Linked DNA regions of Homo sapiens: regions 1, 3 and 4 are each reported to be linked to region 2. The links are microRNA targets in miRTarBase. Many come from high-throughput screens and were not tested one by one. Region 2 holds a microRNA gene; each other region holds the end of a gene's coding sequence.
The links. The annotated mature microRNA hsa-miR-4688 reads UAGGGGCAGCAGAGGACCUGGG and lies in region 2 at 3,740-3,761, shown strand. An mRNA with a match to its seed (bases 2 to 7 or 8) in the 3' UTR can be bound and repressed. Matches are read on the target gene's strand: a 7mer-m8 pairs with bases 2 to 8, a 7mer-A1 pairs with bases 2 to 7 and ends in A, and an 8mer does both.

Region 1 (5,388 bases), not on the chromosome of region 2:
GCCGCTCCCTCCCCACTTGTGCCCCGGGCGCCCCTCGCCCGCGATCACAGCCCATCTCAGCCCGGGCCTCCGCAGTGCCCGGCCCACGCCTCCTGCCCCTTCCCCGGACCCTGCCCGGGAGGTGTGGGGACCCGCAGGGCACCCAAAGCGGTAAGGGAGGAACCCGGCCCGCACACAGCCCCAGAAGCCCAGCGACCCCTAAGCCACGTACCGTCCCCAGGCAGCTCCTCGACGGCTAGAGCTCTCGGGGGCCGCGAGCTGTCCCGGTCCAAGGCAGCAGTCTGATTTCGGGGAAATTAAAAGGGCAGAAAGGAAGCGGCAGCAGAAAAACCCCCGCGCTCCCGCCAGACCAGCCCCTTAAAGGAACACGCGCACCTTTCCCTCCCAAGGGCTGGGCTCGAAGGGAGGAGCTGCTGCAGGCTTGAGCGGTCTCCAGACTCGCTGGGAACCACCGCAAAGAGGGTGTGCAAGAGTTGAGGCCCTCACGTCTTGGGAAAGGAGAGTAGGGGTGGAATAGGAGAGTTTGGGGAGGGGGGATCCCCTTAGAAAGCCTGGTATACCAAAAACAGTGGGAGTAAGCAGGGGAAGCCCCTGTCCAGCATTCTGCTAGGGGCTAAGGCTGCTCCCCACCTTTGATTGTGGAAGGGGTGAGACTTCTGTATTACTTTCTTTTCCAAATAGAAAGCAAGGGGGTGAGGCCAGGTGCAGTGAGTGGCTCATGCTTGTAACCCCAGCACTTTGGGAGGTGGAGGCCGGTGGATCACCTGAGGTCAGGAGTTCAAGACCAGCCTGGGCAACATGGTGAAACCCTGTCCCTACTAAAAATACAAAATTAGCTGGGCGTGGTGGAGCATGCCTGTAATCCCAGCTACTTGGGAGGCTGAGGCAGGAGAATTGCTTGAACCCAGGAGGCGGAGGTTGCAGTGAGCTGAGATCATGCCATTGTGCTCCAGCCTGGGCAACAAGAGCAAAACTCCGTCTCAAAAAAAAAAAAAAAAAAAAAGCAAGGGGTTGCTGATGTCCTCATGCCCCTGAGTTTGGCCATCATGAAACACTGGCCAGATTCCCAACTCACTGTCAGGCACATAGCAGGTGCTATCCCCAGCACATGGGGCTTGAATGAGTGGCCCTGGCTGGGAGGGGAGACACAGGGTGGGATACCTCTGCAGCCTGCAGGGGCAATCAGGCTTCTGAGTGGTCCTCCAACAGGGGTGGGCCTCCCTTCGGAATCCTGCTAATCAGCACAGCCATCCAGGCAGCCGCTCAGGATGCCTCTGTTTGGACAGGGTGTTTTCTTTCCTGTCCAGACCAATGGGGGCCCTGGCCTGGACAGCCCGATGTTTCCTCAGCAGAAAAGACTAAGGAGGTCCTTCAGCTTTGGCTGGGGGAAGGGTCGAAGGGTCACAGGGTCACAGAGCTCAGAGCCTCTTCCTAAACACAGCTCAAGTTGGCCCATGAGTGTGTGTGTGTGTGTGCATGTGTGTGTGTTACACACAGCCAGGGGCACATTGGAGCACAAAGAACTGTGATCAACAGGTAAACTACACCTAAAAGGAACGCCAGGCTTGATGGGCAAAGGGGAGCCAAGGTAGGTCCCTCTGCAGGTTCCCGACAGGGGAGAGGATGGACAGTAGGGAGAGCACATTTTGCTACAGTTAAGTCGAGTTGAACATGCCAGCCAGGGGTAGGGGTAGCCAGCAGGTGGAATCTGAACGCTCACCCTCTGCCTTGCAGTGGGGCAGAAAAAAGTCAATGTGTAGGGGTGATGGTAAAAGCTGGGCAAATGGAAGACACTGCTGAGGGAGAGAAGCCAAGGAAGGAAGGAGGGGGTCAGGAGTGAGGGGACTCCACTCCAGGGTCCCAGGAGGGGGACTTTTAGAAGGCTGTGGCCAACCCATCCCAGAGCAGAGATGCTTCTCCCACTGTCTGCTTATCCCCAGGGTATGCTGGAACAGGGGTTCAGGGCAGGAAACTCCCCCGGGAGGGAGACCTGAGGCTTGGAAGCACGCAGAAAGGCTTGGCTCTAAACCCAATCCACACCGCTCCGCAGAAGAGAGCTCTGAAACGGGAGGCAGTAGGCCAAGGGACACCCAGGGGAAGGGAGTCCCCCATCCTCAGTTCCTACGAAGACCACGGCCTGGGCCTTTTATTCAGACCCTGCTAGGCCCAGGAGCCCAGCAACCGCAGGTCTCAGAAAGGAACCACTTCCAGACACATTTCCCTGATGTGGTTCCAGCAAAGCCACGCCCTCCCTTTGGCAGCCCTGTGGCCCCACCTCCTGCTGCTCAGAGGCGGCCCCACCTCCTGCTGCTCAGAGGCGGCCCCACCTCCTGCTGCTCAGATGCACCCCCTGCCTGCAGAACACAGCCGGCTCCCAAAGTTTGGAAAAATTCACCTTGACAAAGAGGGTGGTTTTTCCTACACCCCTTCCCAAGCTAGCCAAGCCTCTGCCTGCAAGTCACCCTTCCAGATCACCAAGACACTGGCCCGCAAGGCCCACCCCCACTTCTTGATGACCCCCACACAGGGGAGGGCAGAGAGGGTATCCCTGGAGCACACACGCCAGTGGCCTACCAGGAACCAGTGTGTTCAGGCAGGAGGCCTCATGCCCACTTGGCAGAGCCCCGGCCCCCTCCTCCAGTCCCACGCTGCACCCACCCCAGGAACTCCCGCAGTTCGGAAGGCATCCAGGTTCACTGAGTTTCTTATAGTTTCTCCAGCCCACCACTCCAGTTGCAGAGAGAATGGAAACTGCTGAAGGGGAAAACCAGCTGCCCCAGCCAGTCTTCCTGGCAGGAAGGGAGCAAAAGCATTCAGGAGACAGTGTCTGCCAGCACTCGCTGGGCCCCTGACCAGGCAGCAGTTGTAGGGCTCAGGGCCAGACGGCATGGAGGTAGAAAGCAGAGGGAAGAGGGGAAGTCAGGTTTTGAGGACCTGGAAGTCCTGACTTCCTTCAGGCCGCCCTGGACCAAAGTCTCCAGCCTCCTGCTATGAAGCTATGTGTAGTCAGGCAGGTGACATAAAGAAAGATGGGGCTGGGCACGGTGGCTCACGCCTGTAATCCCAGCACTTTGGGAGGCCGAGGCAGGTGGATCACAAGGTCAAGAGATTGAGACAATCCTGGCCAACACGGTGAAACCCTGTCTCTACTAAAAATATAAAACTTAGCTGGGCATGGTGGTGTGCACCTATAGTCCCAGCTACTTGGGAGGCTGAGGTAGGAGAAATGCTTGAACCCAGGAGGCAGAGATTGCAATGAGCCGAGATCACACCACTGCACTCCAGCCTGGCGACAGAGCAAGACTCCATCTCAAAAAAAAAAAAAAAAAAGCAAGCAAGCAAGCTGGGGCTCAGGGAGGACCACAGGTGGGGGATGGGGAAACCAGCGCAATTTAAATCCCATTCCCATGAAACAATAACGAACCACACCAAGAGTTCCCGTGAAGAAGATAAATATATTTTGGAAGCTGCCTGTGTCCTCTGGGGTGAAAAGCCAGCATAGAGGGCCCCAAACGCCCACCCTGCCAACCCATGCCCTCCTCTGACCTCGCTCCCTTTCTCCCCATAGACCCGCCCCACCCCCTTCTGTGTCGCTGGGCTTCAGGACAAGGGGCAAGAGAGGCAACCAGGGAGACAAGGGGAAGTGTCTTGGGGACAGGGGGCCACAGCAGTTGTGGCCACATGGTACCCCAGGGCCGACGCAGGGCCGACGGGCAAGAGGCTGTTATCTCCAGCCTGGCGCTTCCGGGCCTTTCTTGAGGCCACCATGGGAATGTGATGTGTGAGAGAGGGGCTAGGAGAGACAGAGACACACGCACCTGGGATCGGCGGTCCGGACAGGGGCAGGGAAACCACACGCCCTACTTTGCCCTTTCCTGTCCATCCCAGACCTACTCAGATCCCTCAGTGCCTAAGAAAACAGGACAGTGAGGACTGGGGGTTAGGGGACGGGGCTTAGGGGCTGGGGCAGGGCCCGTGAGAGGTGGAGGGTGGGAAAGAGGGAGGGAGGGGTGACTGTGTGGTGGTGCTGCCTCTGAACACCCTCCCCTTCCCCAGTCCCCAGCCCTATGGTGATTTAAAGGGGCTGAGAAGCCAAGAGGCAGCGGGCCCATGGAAAGCAGGAAGACCTGGGGGTGGCAGGTGGCCACTAACAGCCCAGCAGCTCCAGGCGCAGGGCGATGCGGTTGTGCCAGGCTACAGGCAGGATGCGCACATAGCGAGCCAGGATGGGCGTCTCAAACAAGTTCTTCTTGTGGGAGTGGTTGTCCCAGTTGCCAGGGAAGATCTAGAGGCAGAGCGGGTGTCAGGAGGACCCCGAGCCAGCCCCCCTCCCCTCAGAGCCCCAGGCCAGACTCCCAGGGAAGTAATGAAGGAATGGCAAAGGGTGGGCAGCTGGACAGACACCCACCTTACTGCTGCCAGTCCTGGGGTCCTGGTACTCAGTCCAGTTCGCACTGTCATTACTGTAGGCAACCTTGTAGGATGCCACAAACTGGACAGAGCCAAAGTTACGGGCCCCCTGGGTGATGATGCCTGTCACCTCCTTCGAGGAGCCCAGGTCCACCTACAGAAGAAACCAACCACATTTTCTCTGCTTGGACCATCTCCAGTAAGGTGAAAAGAGGCAGACACACTGAGGCATGAATTCTAGTTTTGAAAAAAACTACTTGGGTGAGCCTCAGTTTCTTTGGCTATAAAATGGGCATAAGGCCGGACATGGTGTCTCATGCCTATAATCCCAACACTTTGGGAGAGACTTGAGGCAGGTGGATCACCTGAGGTCAGGAGTTCGAGACCAGCCTGACCAACATGGTGAAACCCCGTCTCTACTAAAAATACAAAAAATTAGCTGGGCATGATGGTGGCTGCCTGTAATCCCAGCTACTAGGGAGGCTGAGTCAGAAGAACCGCTTGAACCTGGGAGGCGGAGGTTGCGGTGAGCCGAGATGGCGCCACTGCACTCCAGCCTGGGTGACAGAGCAAGGCTCTGTCTCAGAAAAAAAAAAAAAAAAAGCGGTGAGGGGGCATAAATAATACCACCTACTTTGCCACACATGGTGTTCGGTACCTCACTGCTATAAAGCTCATAGGGTCTGGGCCCTGGCCAACTCCACGCCAACCACCCCTGCCTGAGACCTGCACTGCACTGTGATGGGAAGAAGGACAGGAGAGGCCACAGCCTGGAGGGGCATGAACTGCTCTAGAGGCTCCCTGCGGCGCCGCCCACAGTCTGACACTGGTCCTGAGGGTGTCCACAGGCAGGCAGCTCCTCAGGGAACCCAGCTCCGCAGTGTGCTCCATGGGGCCCTGAGACAGACCTCCTGTCCCCGGTCCCTGACCTCCCTGGAGAACCTGCCAGCTGCACCTGGACACACAGTTCCCCAACAT
Region 2 (5,388 bases):
GCCTGAAGCCGGGGTCCCTGTGGGCCTGATTTGCCTCTGTTCTTCCTCCCCCAGGTGGGCTGGATCCTCTCCACCCTGGACCAGCTACGCCTGAAGCCGCCACCCCCTGTTGCCATCCTGCCCCTGGGTACTGGCAACGACTTGGCCCGAACCCTCAACTGGGGTGGGGTAAGCACCCATAGGAGGGGGGTGCAGCTGGGGCCTCTCCAGCCACAGAGGGCTCAGTCCCTGCCTGCTCCCCCAGGGCTACACAGATGAGCCTGTGTCCAAGATCCTCTCCCACGTGGAGGAGGGGAACGTGGTACAGCTGGACCGCTGGGACCTCCACGCTGAGCCCAACCCCGAGGCAGGGCCTGAGGACCGAGATGAAGGCGCCACCGACCGGGTAAGTTGGCCAGGGTTGGTGGGGGGCAGGGCAGGTGACTGGGGACTGGATCCCACTTTTCCACTTGCTGGTTCTGGGACCTCGGGCGTGTCTCTTCATTTCTCCAACTTCCACTTCTTCCTTGTACGATGGGAATAATAGTACTTGCCTCACAAGATGCTGTTTTTTCTGTGTTTTTTTTTTGTTTTTTTTTTTTTTTTTTTGAGACTGAGTCTCGCTCTGTTACCCAGGCTGGAGTGCAGTGGCGCAATCCCAGCTCACTGCAACCTCCGCCTCCCAGGTTCAAGCGATTCTCCTGCCTCAGCCTCCTGAGTAGCTGGGATTATAGGCAGGTGCCACCACACCTGGCTAATTTTTGTTTTTCTGTTTTCTTTTTTTTTTCTTGTTTTTTTTTTTGTTTTTGTTTTTTGTTTTTTGTGACAGAGTCTCACTGTCACCCAGGCTGGAGTACAGTGGCACAGTCTTGGCTCACTGCAACCTCTGCCTCCCGGGCTCAAGCTATTCTCCTCCGTCAGCCTCCTGAGTAGCTGGGACTACAGGCACCCGCCACCACACCCGGCTAATTTTTGTATTTTTAGTAGAGATGGGGTCTCACCATGTTGGTCAGCCTGGTTTTGAACTCCTGACCTCAGGTGATCCATCTGCCTCGGCCTCCCAAAGCACTGGGATTACAGGCATGAGCCACCACGCCTGGTCAGAAGATGCTGCTTTATTCCATAGACATGCACTGAGCGCCTGCTACCTGCCAGGCACTTCTCTAAGCAGTGAGCAAAACCAAGCCTCGCTGTTGTGCTCCACATGGCATGTCAGGAAGAAGTGTTAGGGGAGCTGACAGGGAAGAGATGCTGCAGGCACGCAGGGAAATCCCCCAGGAGCCACCAGGCAGAGCAGGGCTGTGCCTGACAGCGGGTGAGCTGGGCTGAGCCCTAGCGGACGCTGCTGACCAGGAAAAGCCTGTGAACAGATGGGCTGAGCTGGCTCGGCCACACGAGGCCCCTGGAGCGGGGACATTTGTGAGGCCCAGCCCTCATTTTGGTCCCTTGACCTTTTTCCAGTTGCCCCTGGATGTCTTCAACAACTACTTCAGCCTGGGCTTTGACGCCCACGTCACCCTGGAGTTCCACGAGTCTCGAGGTTGGCAGCCTCCCACTGAGGCCAGGGCAGGGTGGGCACAGGAGTGTCCCCGGGAGGGTCAGACCCTGCTCCCGCCAGTGAAGGCATCCATCCCAGCCCTCCCCCAACCCCACCTGGGCAGGCTGGGGTGACTCACTGGCCCCCACTGCTTGTCTCCACCCAGAGGCCAACCCAGAGAAATTCAACAGCCGCTTTCGGAATAAGATGTTCTACGCCGGGGTGAGTGGGGTCTGCACCCCCGCCTGTGCCCACCTCTTCTACCACCCGTGCCCGTGCCCACCTGTGTCCACCAGGCCCCAGGAGCCCTGCCGGGTGCTGGTGAGGAAAGATCTCTGTCAGCAGATGGTGACGCCCTCTGTCTCCCACAGACAGCTTTCTCTGACTTCCTGATGGGCAGCTCCAAGGACCTGGCCAAGCACATCCGAGTGGTGGTGAGCGGGGCCAGGCTGCCGTGGGTGGGTGGGCCGGAAGGGAGGGAGGCGGAGGCCACCTGGCACATGCACCTCAACACCCTCCCCGCCCGCCTCCAGTGTGATGGAATGGACTTGACTCCCAAGATCCAGGACCTGAAACCCCAGTGTGTTGTTTTCCTGAACATCCCCAGGTGAGGAGGGGGCTACCGGAGCTGGGGGGAGCCCTGCTGTCCTTGTCCTGCAGAGACTGTGTTTTGAGGCCCATGTCATCGCCCGCCTTTGCAGGTACTGTGCGGGCACCATGCCCTGGGGCCACCCTGGGGAGCACCACGACTTTGAGCCCCAGCGGCATGACGACGGCTACCTCGAGGTCATTGGCTTCACCATGACGTCGTTGGTGAGTGGGCCCTGGGCCCATGGTGCCTGGGAGCACAGCCCAAAGGTGGAAGGGGTCACCCATACTCACCTCCATGGGCCACGGCGGCCTAGTTCACCCTCACCTCCCTTCTTTGTCTCATTCCTCTGGCTTGAGAGCGGCACCTACCCCCTCTCCTCACTATGCCTCGGGATACCTTCACTCCCCACTCTGACTGGAGCGTCACCCTCATTGCCTCTGTCCCTTCCCTTTCCTACCTGGGGTCTCAGCCTCCCCTCTGCCCTCTGGCCAGGGGTCACTCTCACCTTTGTTCTCTGGCTAGAGTTTCTGCTTCGGAAGGAGCAGAGTCTGGGACCCCCCTGCCCCCAGCCCTGGTGCCATCTGACCCAAGCTTCCTGTGCCCACAGGCCGCGCTGCAGGTGGGCGGACACGGCGAGCGGCTGACGCAGTGTCGCGAGGTGGTGCTCACCACATCCAAGGCCATCCCGGTGCAGGTGGATGGCGAGCCCTGCAAGCTTGCAGCCTCACGCATCCGCATCGCCCTGCGCAACCAGGCCACCATGGTGCAGAAGGCCAAGCGGCGGAGCGCCGCCCCCCTGCACAGCGAGTACGTCCCACCCTGCCACGTGCCCTGGGTGCCAAGGCCAGACCCTGCCCTCTCTGGGCCTTGATTTCCCCATCTGTAAAAGGGGCTGACTGTCCCTCTGCCCCAGGGGTGTTGGGAGTGGAGCGGGACCTTCTCTCGGCAAGTGGTTTGGTGCCAGGCCGAGGGTGGCACCAAGGCAGGGCCCTTGCTGAGCCCCCGCTTGCCGGCCCTGCCCGACAGCCAGCAGCCGGTGCCAGAGCAGTTGCGCATCCAGGTGAGTCGCGTCAGCATGCACGACTATGAGGCCCTGCACTACGACAAGGAGCAGCTCAAGGAGGCCTGTGAGTGCGGTGGGGCGGCCTGGCAGGGTGGCCAGGAGGGGCTGAAGCAGCCGGGGCCCCCTTGGGCAGGGCTGTGGGGTGCAGCCAGCTGCTGACAGGTGCTCTGTTCTCCAGCTGTGCCGCTGGGCACTGTGGTGGTCCCAGGAGACAGTGACCTAGAGCTCTGCCGTGCCCACATTGAGAGACTCCAGCAGGTAAGGGGTGGGGGCTTCCCCAGGTGCCCACCGAGAGGGTGGTGGGAAGTGAGGCCAGGCCTCTTCCTCCCGCAGCCAGCTCGCCCTGCGGAGCCTCCTCTGTGCTGGTTCCCCCTACTCCAAGTTCCCTTCCCTCCCTGGCCCCCACTCTATCCCAGCCTGGCCTTTGCTTCTCTCAACAGGAGCCCGATGGTGCTGGAGCCAAGTCCCCGACATGCCAGAAACTGTCCCCCAAGTGGTGCTTCCTGGACGGTGAGTCTACTCCCAGGGTGCCAAGCTGTTTCGTGTTCCCTCCCTAGGGGATCCCAGGTAGGGGCAGCAGAGGACCTGGGCCTGGACATGGCACTCCCTGATCCTCAGCTGCCCTCTCTCCCACAGCCACCACTGCCAGCCGCTTCTACAGGATCGACCGAGCCCAGGTGAGCGATTGCAGGCCTGCTCCAGCCACAGCTGCTTCCGGGCCCCAGGGTCGCCTCTCCTGGGACGCCTTCCCTGTTAGCTCCCCCGATGGGCTCACCTCTGTCCTCATGCCTCTGAGAGCTTTTACTATTGCCTGTGTGCATGGACAGCGTGCGGCCCTGCCCTCCACACTGGAGAGTATAGGGCGGTGCCAGCCAGAAAGGCAGTGGGGTACCTACCAAAGGCTTGCTGGGTGGGTAGGAGGGCCTGGAAGCCCAGAGCCATCCAGGGAGACACAGAAGCAAAGGCATTCTGGTCAGGCGCCAGCTCACCTGGTAAAGTCTGGGCAGTCGGAGGAGGTGTCAGGAATGGGAAGGAGTGGGAGAGGGACAGGCAGGGCCCCTTGCCTGGCCACCTCCTTTCAGTGTTTGTGCTCATGGCAGAGGCTTCTCCAGGTCTACCAGCCTTGCTGCCCCTCGGCCCCCACCGTCAGGTGCCCTGACCTCCCGCCCTGACCTCCCCCCACAGGAGCACCTCAACTATGTGACTGAGATCGCACAGGATGAGATTTATATCCTGGACCCTGAGCTGCTGGGGGCATCGGCCCGGCCTGACCTCCCAACCCCCACTTCCCCTCTCCCCACCTCACCCTGCTCACCCACGCCCCGGTGAGTCCTGGTGTCCCGTCCCTCCAGCCCCTGGCTTTCAGCCCCACCTGTAAGCCGATGACTTCTGAATCCCTGCTTCTAGCCCCTCCACCAGTTAACTAAATGGTGTCAACCTGAACCTGGCCAAAGCCCACCTGACGGCCTTCAGCCCTGTGGTTCTGTGGGGAAGCGGCCTCACGTCCACCCTGGTTCCCTCCCTGACTTCTCCCTCCTCTGGACCTCATCCTTCAGCCAGTCCTGGCAGCCCCCGGACCCACCACCTGAGCACTCCTCCCCACCCCTACTGCCACCAGCCCTTCCCGGCTGCCACGCCCTGGCCCCCAGCTCTTATATCCCTGTGGCCATTCGTGCCCTCGAACCCCCATCTCCATACCACGGTCAACTAAAAATGCAGAGCATACCAGGCCACTCCCCAACCTAGAAGCTTCTTTCTCAGCAGCCCTTTGGACGTGGATTCTCCCCAGGCCCCCCGTCATTGCACTGGGCTCCCAGCCCCCTCCCTGAGTTCACCTCCATGGTCCTGCCCCACTCTCTTCTCTTGGTTCTTTGAGGCATCAGGTGTTTGCCACCACTGGACTTCTGTCATCGCTGCCTCCAACTCTTCCCCCATCTTTCCGGAGCTCCCCCACCCCCATCCCCTTCGAATCTCAGCTTGGCTGTTTCCTCCTTGGAGAGATCACTCCCAGGACCCCCTCTGCAGGGGTGCCACATCACCTGTTCTGAATTCTTAAGAGCACCCCTGCTCTCAGAACTCCTTATTTATTTGACTTGTTTGTATCCCTGAACTAGAATGTAAGCTCCATGAGGGCAAGGCCTTCCTCTGTCTCGTTTCCCTGCTGTATCCCCAGTGCCTGGAATAGTGCTTGGTGTGTAGCAGGCACTCAATAAACTG
Region 3 (5,388 bases), not on the chromosome of region 2:
AGACTTTGCCAACACCCATCACAAAGTCCTCTGCTCCTTGTTAAGCTGTTACCAGCTCTTATTCTGTGTGCAGCACTGAGCTGAGTGCTTTGCATATATTTCTCCTTTAATCCTCATCATCAACTTTTGTGAGGTGGGTACCACTATCACCTCCAGCTCAGAAGCTTAGAGAGGTTAAGTGACTTGCCCCAAACCACTCAGGTCATTATGTAGCAACGCCAGGATTTCACTTGAATCTGCCTGCTTCCCAAGGCTGGGCATGCTGTGAAGCATTCCTCCTTCTGCCTCCTTCTTCACCAGCTCCCAACCTGCAGAGCCCCTATGCCCAGGTGCCCTGCATCCTGCTCTGCCCACAGCTGGACAAGAAGATGGTCCGTAGGCAGCCGAGCAACCACTATGCACTAGACCAGTGCACACCCCCTGGCCTGGATCCTGACATCCGCAGCCCCTTCTTCCAGTCAGGATCTCAAGGAAACAGGTGGGTGCCCAGAGAAAGGGTCCCAGCCCAGGCCCTTCCAGATTCTTCCTTAAGAGGCCCCTGGCCTAATGCCTGGGAATCCATCTTTCTAAGAGATCATACCTGAGAGGCTGCTTGCTCCAGGGAGGAGAAAGGGTAAAAGGCGAAGAAGACAAACCTTTGTTGAGGGCCTGTGTACCCAGCAGATTGTTCCACTGAAGCCAGAGTGCTTCTGCTTTCCTGTGTCCAGGACTCAGTGGCACCTAACTGAGTACTCTGAGTTCCCTATGGTTCCATATTAGGACTAGCAGACTGTGCACCTGGGCAGAGGGGAACGTCTCCTGCAGCAGTCCCCCTCCAGGCCGCTGGGGAAGGGAGCTCTGGACTTGGAATCAGGCCCCTAAGCACAACTGCTGGTTCCACCATTTCTGAGGGGAGGCCTCCTCTCTCTCCTCACTTGGGCACGCACAGATGGCTCATATACTGGCAGATAGGGAAAGGGCCACATGTCTCCCACCCTTCTGCCCTACTCCTCTCCCCAGGGAACACAACTCTGACAGCAGAAAGTGGCTCAGCTCTGTGCCAGCTCGAACCCACTGACCCTCTGGAGGCCTGACTCTAGGCAGCTGCTCAAGGCCTGTAGACAGATGGGCCACCAGGCAGGAGCTGCTGCTGGGATTTGCTTTTGTGGCCTGGTGAGCTAATAAACACCAATAACTTCAGCCTCTGTGCCTCTTGCCAAGAAAGGCCCTCAAGTTGTCACCCAGCCACCACTGGGCTCTCAGAGTGCAGGGTTCCACCTCAAAGCCCTGCGCGGGGTTGGGATTTCTGCTACAGGTGCCCCTGCGTGCAGTCTTGACCTTCTGTGCCTTCTCAAAGCACAGGGCTAGGCCTCTCCTCAGGTGAGCACATCCCCCTCTGGACTGGGAGCCCCACAAAAGCAGCCATTCTCTCTCTCCACTGGCTCTAAGACAGGCCCTGTGGAAGAGCAGGAGGTGGCCTCTGCATGCTCCCCCGACAGAGCCCCAGGACCCAGGGCTCTCATTCTCTGGGAGCCCCAAGAGGGGTGGGTCCTTTCCCCTCAACCCACATACCACCCGGCCTCGTGTTTTACCAAAGACAGTCTTTCCCTGGGACTGGGCAGAGGGAAATCCCCCAGGGTTAAATAAGCGGCCACAGCAAGAGGTAGAGGGCAGGGACTGAAATGAGGACAAAGATCTGACAAGTTTAAAACATGTATTTAAAATACAATTTATAAAATGCTTAATCTGCCGACTCAGGAGCCCGCGGTGCAGGGTGGGGTGGGAGTGGGCAGCTGCCCGCTACACCAGCAGAGTAAGACTGCAGGGGTGCAGCCCTCCCTCCCATGCCCTTCTGTTCAGACACCCAAGGGGCCCATGTGCACCCCTGGGATCACACGACCAGAAAACAGGACCCCAGAGGTTTCTTGAGTCTCTGCTTACCAGGGAGGCTGGGTACAGCCCTGCCAGCCCATCCCTGAGCAGGGCACCCCCAGATGGGGCAGAGCAGGGTATGGCTGGGCAGGGCAGGGCTGGGCGGGGCAGATGGGCTCTGGAAGGGGCTGATGGTAGCAGATAGGGTGTTGCCTCCTGCCTGCAGGTGGGGAGCACCCTGATTGAGTGGGCTGAGAAAGGTTGGTCACCAGGCCTGGACCCCCCAGCTCCTTTGGTTATAGGCTGACATCAGAGTAGTGGCTCATGGGAAGCGGTTAGCTGGAAGGTCTGAGGCCTGGCCCATGGGGTCAGGGAGGAGCTGGGGGAAGGGGACAGTACCGTGAAGGCAGATAAAGGGGCAGCAGCCTCAGGTTTCTGCCCCCCATCCCCCTGGGGTTTTCCAAGCCAAAGCCTGCAACTTACTTTAAAAAAGAAAAGGAAAAAAAGCACTTAGGAAAGTTACAGACAACTACCCCCAAAAAATACCCTCCCACACACAAAATCCAAACCGTTTCCTCATCTCCCTCCCGCCTCCCCCGACACAATACAGTTTCCTGTTTTCTTTCTTTTTAAAAACGTTGCCTGCTACCTCTCCATTTGGGAAGCCCAGGGCATGACTGCTGGTGGGTGGTGACAGGCACACAGCGGGCAAAGCCCATCTTTGGCCAGAGGGAGGTGGGAGGACCAGTCCCTGCCACATCCTCAATCCACAGACACCCACCAGCCAGCCTTTACTTTGGCCTCCCACTAGAGGGTAGTGGGGCAAGAACAGGTGGTCCCAATGGCTGGGCAATCAGCACTTCTGGCGTTCCCACCTGGACTACCTCTATACCCTTCTCCAATTAAAAGGAAAGTCTCACTTTGGGCGGGAAACCACTATTACATAAGGGATGGACACTACACATTTAGAATGTGGACACTTGGTTAGGGCAGTGGAACTATAAAGATAGCAGCCAGTTTTCTTCCTTGCCTTCTCCTGAAGGTAATCCTCCCTCTTACTGACTGAAGCTCTGGTTCCAGCTCTGCTCATGGGCAATGCCTGGCTTTACAGTTATAAGGCTGTGCTATGGACTAGCTGCTGACTCAGCTGGCAGCTGGCCCTTCCTCCGGAGGAGAGGACGTGTTGGGGCATGGCTTACTGGGCCTGGCCTACCATTCCCACAGGGAACCAACGAGGGAGTGAGCCTGTGAGACTCAGCTTGCCACCTTGGCCACCACGTGCTGCCCTCATCACAAAAACCACACCAACCACTCCGAAACGTATCTGCTGGTCAGGAGCAGGGAGGCTGTCTGGCTGGCTGAGGGATAAGGCGCAGTGCAACGGAAGGGATCAGGAAGCCTGAGAGGAGCCAGGTACACACAGCTGCTCTGGGCAGCTGCCCTCTTAGTCTCTTCCACCTCAAGGAGCCAAAGCAAACCCCAGGCTCCAGGGACAGAGGATAAACTGCCTTCATTCCAGGCCCTCGCTCTGGAAAAAGGGGTGACGGGTAGCCTAGGCCTCTGAGGAACCAGTCTGTCATCAATCTTTGCAAAGCAAAGCTGTTCTTTTTCCAACTTTATTCAGAATGTTCTGCCTTCAAGGTACTGATTGCACACAGGAAATGTACCAGGTATAGTTACTGAGCTGGGGCCACCAATGGAGATGGAGCACTGCAGACCCCTAAGAGTTCAAGCCATGCTGGAGTGGGAAGACCTATCCACCTTCTGAACATACGAGGCAGAAGGCTCAGAGTCCTGGAGGCAGACTCTCTCCTGGTTTTCCTTGTGCTGATGGCAAAATACTAAACAAGTCTTCTCTCCGTCACTTCTAAGCCCAGGGATGCAATCTCACTCCCTGGCACTCTGCTTTCTTCTAGAAGTAGTAAGCCTGGCTGGTAGGGAACCACCCTGAGGGGTATGGGAAGGGGAAGTCGGTTCACTTTCCCTATCTCCCAAAATACTAGAGGTGGGGTTGGCACCCTCCCCAGGCTCTCCGAGCCTACAGAGCTAGCCCAGTCTCCAGGCAAGGCCCAGATGCCCTGGGACTTAGCTCGGGGAGGGAGGTATAGGCATGGGGTGCTCGTCTGTCCTGGCGGCTGCAGAGCCCTGCCCCTTTTCTGGGCGGCAGTAGGAATACAGAAGCTAAGCTCACCAAAATCCTATTGGTTAATGTTTCTAGTGAATTTCCCAGAAACATTTTTAAGTAGACTACCAAACTACCCTTTCTTAATTAAAAATTCATTAAACCACTAAAACCCCTCCCATGCACTTTTTCTTGCAAATCAGATATTTGTATAAACAAACAAAAATAGGAAGAAAAAAAAAAGAAAGGATATTTTCAAATGGAACTTACTTTTTAAGTGATGGAGACATGCACTTGGGGGTGGGTGGGTGTGAGTTTTCATTTGTGTTTTGAAATCCCAAATTAATGAGCATGATAAACTGTTATTGCTGGCACTGGCTTTACCCCAAGTGGCCAAGTGGCACTGTCTGACTCTCTGAGTCCTTGCTGGGTCCCCCCAACCTTCCCCTAACCCCCACCCTTTCCCTTTCCATTGACTTGGGACAGCCCTTGTCGATGTGCCAATCACAGTGGGAAGGGGGAGAAGGGGGGAGGTCACAGTGCATGGGGTTCAAGGTCACAGTGGGCGGAGCAAGGGGGATCACAGTGCAAGTAAGTCAGGTCGTTCCCTCTGCTCAAGTCCAGCTGTCTGCCACGGCAGTGCAACCCGTGGCGGACGACCCAGGAGGCGGTGACGGCAGCAACGGCGGCATCTTTTCTTGCCTGCATTTATCTGCGCTGTTTGAAGCCTTGAGACCCATCAGGACCCAAAGGCTGTCTGATCACATTATTGGGCTGCCTGCTGTCTTCGGGTTGGGAGATCCTGGTTGGCCTGAAAGGAAGAAAAGCAGAGGAAGGCCTGAAGAAGGATATAATAGATGTCCCCCATCATTTCTTTATTTTTTATTTATTTTTGAGACGGAGTCTCATTCTGTCACCTAGATTGGAGTGCAGTGGCACGATCTCCGCTCACTGCAACCCCCACCTCCTGAGTTCAAGTGATCCTCCTACCTCAGCCTACCGAGTAGCTGGGACTACAGGCATATGCTACCACACCCAGCTAATTTTTGTAATTTTAGTAGAGATGGGGTTTCACCATGTCGGCCAGGCTGGTCTTGAACTCCTGACCTCAAGTGATCCGTCCACCTCGGCCTCTCAAAGTACTGGGATTACTGCACCTGGCCTAGATGTCCCCCATCTTAAAATCAACTGTCCATATAGCTGGGCCCACGTCACTCTGGCTCCGCAAGCCTGCTTCTTTGGGAAGCTGACTCAGGGCACCTCCAAGTTGAGAGGCCCCTGTGAGCAGGCAGGGTCGGTGGTGCACATTCACCTCTAGCAGCTACAGCATCCTTTCCCCCTGCTCAGCTGCCATCATGCACTTGTAGGCAGGGGGAGTGCTTGAGGGCCCACTCTGCCCAGAGGCAGTGACCATG
Region 4 (5,369 bases), not on the chromosome of region 2:
TCAGGAGGCTGAGGCAGGAGAATCGCTTGAACCTGGGAGGCGGAGGTTGCAGTGAGTTGAGGTCGCACCACTGCACTCAGCCTGGGCGACCGAGTGAGACTCTGTCTCAAAATAAATAAACAAACAAACAAACAAATAAATAAATAAATAACTTTTCTGATTATCCTACCAGCGGAGGAGGATGGTATACAAAGGAAGTACATAGATGAGAGCCCTGGCTTCAAATCCTGACTCTGCCATCTGTTGGGTGATCTTGGACCAGTTGATTTACCTCTCTAAGCTTTAGTTTTCTCATAAGTAAAATAGGTATAACCATATTTACATAAGGTTGTGAAGATAAGAGGTATTTGCCAAATGGGCACCCACTAGGTCCTTAGTGAATTACAGACATTGCCATCATTACTGTTATCATTCAATTTGGACAGATGGGGTGGAAAGTCTTCTGGGGAGGCCACAGGCTCCTCAGGAAGAGTGACAGATTACTCACACCCAAAAGGAAACAGATAGTAACATTTTTTATTAAATATTACAGTGGATCAAAAAGTACAAAATATCTCTTGCCTGCTATGTGATTGGGAAACTATTGGCACGTAATACAGTATCAAAAGCAGTAATAAGTACAATTTGGAAAACATACAAAATTGAGTGTTTATAGTTGGCTCAGCATTCTTCTGGTAGTGTTTAAACTAATGCAAAGGTTACTCAATAACCTCTCCATTGGGAAACTATATAATATCACTGGGCCATGTTGCTATATACAAATAATCACCTTACAGAGCATAGAGGTTACATAGCTGGAATCACCAAAAGTATACAATATTTACAACACAGGAAAGTTTAAAAAAGTATAAACAGCCAAGAGATTATGCTGCTATTCTTCAGACATATTTCAACCATGAGGAGACAGGCAGAATATCAAATACACTAACAGCCAACACTGGACTTTAAGTGCTCAAGATAATCATTGCAATGGTATGGGTCTCACCAGGGCAAACTCATTCCCATTTCTCTTTAAAATTGGGACAAGAGTAAAACTAGACCAGATGCGACTTGGCTGACCACCACCAAATGTGACTTTGTGGGACGATAAGTGAAGAGAAATAAATGGTTCTCTTTGAAGGCACACTACATAAAATATTTTTGTGGGACCACCTCGAAATTTCCATCAGACACACCAACACAGTGAAATACAGTACTTGAGAATTCATGCACCAGGTCAGAAAGTTGTAAAGTTAACATCGAGTTTTAACAAACCCTTCTGTATATGCCCTGATAAACAAGTGAACTTAAGAGCTTCTAGCTAGTAAATAAATAAGTCAGTCCTGTGGCAAATATTACAAGTTTGAATCACTTACTAGAAGAATACTTAATTCCGAAACTCGGTTGGGCTGTTTTTATTTTTTTATCATGTGGAGTTGCCAAACATTAAACCAGAAGTTGCATGGAAGTTTTTTAAAAATATTATTTAGAATCTCCAAATCTCCAATAAATCACAGACTTAGTGCATTTTGAATTGCAACATTTCTTGGAAGCCACACTCAGTAAATAGATTTATGACTCCACTGCCAATTCGATTCCACAGTTTCCTTTACAGAACTACCAATAACAATGGTTTGATTGCACAAAGAAAGGCTTGTGCAATTCCATTCAATAATAAGGCCCCTTGAACTCAAACAATGCAAACAAAGCCTTATTTAAGACATTTTAAAACGTCGTTCTCAGCCAATGAAGAATTCAATGGTCTTTTTGAAAGATTTCCAAGATCTCTGTTCAGAGTTTTAAAACAAATAACACACTGCTTCTGTTGGGAATGCGTACCCCCATTTCTCTTTATTTGTCCTGATGTTTTGCCGAGGGTATGAGCTTCCTCAGACAGAAACAGTGAGTCTCCTCTCAGAAGAGATGAGAAAAACAAAAGCTGGACTATGTTAACATTGTTTGAAAATGGTGTGATCGAATTCCAACATGATGAAACCAGACTGAAATCATTGCAGTGGAAAAAACAAATGCCCCATATTCCAAATAGGTGAGCTCCACCGGGGACAGATGCCCCCCCTCCTTTTTTTTTTGAGACACGAACTCATAGAAACCACATATGACCTAGCCCATGTCTGCTGCAGAACCACCGAAGTTTCCTTTTTCTTCCATGTCCTCCGATTCTGTGACCATTCAATCTAGTGCAACTTTCTTATATGTGTCCTGGCTAGCATCTTGCCAGCTGGAATTGAGATTTTTCCCCCCTCTAGCTTGTGCAATAGCAGGATAATCTGCACTCACACATTTATAATCTAAATTCTACTAGTCTATCTATGGTTCTATTAAATATATATATATATATTATTCCACAGGAAGGTAAATAATTAATTGAAGCAAATGGAACTCTTAACACTGGATCTCTACATTCTTTTGTTTCCACCTTTGGATATTAAGTATGTTACATTGAATATTTGGCTTCATATCATGGAGACATTTCAATACAAATGCACGGCATGCATGGCTTTGTTTAAGAGCCGCAGTTTCATTGTTATCAGTTTTGATTATTTTGCAGTCGAGTTACCTATTTAGAAGTTGAAAATTGTCACCAATTTTCCCAGAATTAAGTATCTCAGAGGTAAAAGACTTAGTTAACTATGGTTCTAAAGTCTACTGGTAGTGTTGCGGGAGGGGCACAGTGGGTTGGGGAGTTCATCCAAGCGGTCTTCAGCAGGGATGGGACTTGGGGAGAAAATCCACTCTCTGTATCCATTGACTTTTAATTAATACAGTTAGAAAATGTGTCCACCTTAATGTTATATCTCGGTAGCAAATGGAATACAGTGGCAAGAATGACAACGGACATTCTCCACATCTTTTCACTGCCTGAGCAGCTTGACCATTTACTTCCCACAATAAAAGAAACCAGAAAGTGGACTGTATTGCCAGGTGGTTAAAAACATGACCCAAACCACCTTACATGTTTCTGTGTGTGTACACACAAAACTCACACCCCATAAAACCAAATAGGATGACTTTTCTTTTGAAAAGGCTAATCCAGTATGTCAGTTATCCCCAAAGATGTGGCCTGGGAGATTCTTCTTGGGAATGACAAGAAACCAACTGGATGAAAACAACATGACTACTTATCACTCAAAAGACCGAGGCTAGAGAAGCTATCAGGACTGCAGCTGCTCCTCTTCTGGCCAGTTGAGCTCCATCCTCTTCCCAACCCCCTTTCCCAGACCATTTAAAGGAATCAGTGCCAACGCCAATGTAAATCATTTTGGCTCCTGTTCTAATTTCTGAAATTCCTAAAATATCTGTGCAGCCCACAAATATGTCCTCTAGACTCTGTTGTTATTCGGCAGCTTGCTGCCAGTGAGGTTTTTGTTTTTATGATTCTCTGGTATGTAGGACAGTTTCACAGCCTAGATAAGGTAAGTACAATGCTCAATATTTTCACAGAACCCAATACTTCAAAGCAAAGCATTTGGCTGGGTAAGCAGTGTATAAGCTCTTTCAACTATGCCATTTATGAGGAACAAAATCCTTAAGTTGCGGATCTACAAAGGAACGTTCTTTGCACTATTGTGTGCTTGACTGTTTCTTTTTCATTTGTTCCACTAGAATCAGTTGCTTCAATTTGTAAACAATAACTTTACCACCCAAAGCTGCTCAAAATAAGATGTGGAAAAATTACAAACACACAACAACTAGGACAGTCAGTCAGCCTCAAAAACAAAACAAAAACAAAAAGACCTGCAAACAAAAGCAATACCATTTAATAAAAAAAAAAAAAAAAAAAAAAAAAAAGACGAGAAGGAACTGGGAGAAAATGGAACTACCTGTATATAAATTAGGTGAGCAAACAGTGATACAGGTAGTTTTAAGAAGCAAATATATACAGTCAATTTAACAGTGTTTACTTCTCTGGATTGTTTAATAGTGTCAAAATGAAAGATCTATTGAAGTTTCACTATACATTGCATTGATTGAACCTTGGAGAGTTTTATGAAAAAGAGGGGCATCCCTTGCCATCTGTTTGCCAGTCTTCCTTGCCCCTTCCTTTGAAATGCCTGCCTCTTTTTTGCCCAGATTGTTTCCTGACCATCCGAACTCAGATGGGGTCCTCTAAGTTCTTCCTGGATATTCACAAATCCCTTCACAAGGCCCACGTGCGAAGTGAATGATCTGGAGGTGCCTGGGCATCTGTGTTGGAAGGGAGTCAAGACTCACCAGCCAGTCAGTTTGTGGGCTAGAGTTGTCCCACAAAAATCAGGCATGTTCACCTCCCCTCTGGGCCCCTACAGCTGGGACTGATCATAGCCTCAGATTAGAAGAAATACTGACTTCTAACTCTATAAGCCAGCACTCCTGGGTAAGGAGTGAAGCTCTGTTGGCCATGCCGCTTTGGACTGCTGGGCAGAGCTGAGCCTACAGTTTTGTACTGGGGTGCACGGATGACAGCTGGGAAGATGGAAAGGCAGCTTGAGGATTTATAGCAGCTAAAGGGTAAATGCTGTTATGCAAAAGGTCCCCATATGAACTTCCTACAGGTGTAGCCGCAGCCAAGTGTCTGTACAGCTGCTGAGAATTTGTCGGTGATGTAAAAATTCCTCTTTGCATCACAAGCGAGTGGAAAGCCAGGGGCTGCATGAGTGGAGAAAGCACAGTCTGGTTTTTCAAGTACTGCAGAGAATGAGAATACCCAGCCGGGAGCCTGGAGTTGAGGCCCGAGTTACACAGGCTCCCGGAATACAGACCTGGGAAGATAGGGGAGGAGAGGGGAAGCTTGTGGCCTTCTGATCCGCCCCCGGAATGCCCACCGTGCGCTGCTTTGCTGCCTTCACTCTCCTGCTCAGAGGCCTTCTCCTTCCCAGAGACCTCCTTGGATGGGTCTAAGGGAGACACTGCCCGGGCCTTTTTCCCTGCAATCACAAGGTCCAAATCCTCCAGGCTGCGCTTGATCGGCCGCGCCGCCCCAATGTTCTGCGGGCTCATTTTCCGGTGCAGGATTGGGTGGACCATGCCTTCCATCTTCCTGAAATTCTCCAGTCTCACATGGTGAGGTTTTCCTGATCTTGAAAGCGATTCAGGGTATTTTTTAGGGCCTGACATGGTCATGGGTGATACCCGACAGGCTTTGGGGTGACAGTCTCGACTCTGGCTGCCTAAGACCTGGAACTGGGAGATGCCTTTGCTCTCCTGGGGCCCTGTGGTGGAATGAGCCAGGCCCAGGACCTTGCCGGTAGGTTTGTGCGGGTTCTTGGGAAGGCTCAGATCTGTAGGCTGATCATCCGTAGGGGCTTCTGCTGCCGCCGACTTTTTGTCTTGCAGGTGCAGGGACGTGAGATAATTTACATGGAGCTTTTCTTGGTGTCTGTGGGAAGGAA

Region 1: miRTarBase lists MFGE8 as a target of hsa-miR-4688. Seed matches in the 3' UTR shown: 7mer-A1 at 3,956-3,962, 7mer-m8 at 3,839-3,845 and 7mer-m8 at 3,609-3,615.
Region 3: miRTarBase lists SZRD1 as a target of hsa-miR-4688. Seed matches in the 3' UTR shown: 7mer-m8 at 2,266-2,272.
Region 4: miRTarBase lists ARID5B as a target of hsa-miR-4688. Seed matches in the 3' UTR shown: 7mer-m8 at 3,997-4,003 and 7mer-m8 at 2,663-2,669.

What each region holds. Positions count from the first base shown.
Region 1 is chr15:88,895,248-88,900,635 of GRCh38, forward strand. MFGE8 (milk fat globule EGF and factor V/VIII domain containing) reads right to left here. Exons shown (of 8, transcript NM_005928.4): 7 at 4,409-4,564; 8 at 3,436-4,285. The coding sequence ends at 4,148. HAPLN3 (hyaluronan and proteoglycan link protein 3) reads right to left here and starts at 297. Exons shown (of 5, transcript NM_178232.4): 1 at 212-297. RefSeq lists enhancers at 1-134, 2,131-2,425, 2,362-2,411.
Region 2 is chr11:46,372,717-46,378,104 of GRCh38, forward strand. It overlaps MIR4688 (microRNA 4688), which reads left to right and starts at 3,686; the gene lies at 3,686-3,768. It overlaps DGKZ (diacylglycerol kinase zeta), which reads left to right. Exons shown (of 31, transcript NM_001199267.2): 13 at 55-168; 14 at 245-385; 15 at 1,441-1,519; 16 at 1,683-1,738; 17 at 1,888-1,950; 18 at 2,050-2,123; 19 at 2,218-2,329; 20 at 2,716-2,915; 21 at 3,135-3,235; 22 at 3,350-3,429; 23 at 3,612-3,681; 24 at 3,808-3,848; 25 at 4,357-4,496.
Region 3 is chr1:16,394,434-16,399,821 of GRCh38, reverse strand. SZRD1 (SUZ RNA binding domain containing 1) reads right to left here. Exons shown (of 4, transcript NM_001114600.3): 4 at 1,677-4,784. The coding sequence ends at 4,682. It overlaps SPATA21 (spermatogenesis associated 21), which reads left to right. Exons shown (of 13, transcript NM_198546.1): 12 at 301-478; 13 at 1,000-1,179. The coding sequence ends at 1,057. Among named protein-coding and RNA genes, the nearest start is that of SZRD1, 30 kb to the right of the region's middle.
Region 4 is chr10:62,092,072-62,097,440 of GRCh38, reverse strand. It overlaps ARID5B (AT-rich interaction domain 5B), which reads right to left. Exons shown (of 10, transcript NM_032199.3): 10 at 497-5,369. The coding sequence ends at 4,411. Among named protein-coding and RNA genes, the nearest start is that of LINC02621, 160 kb to the left of the region's middle.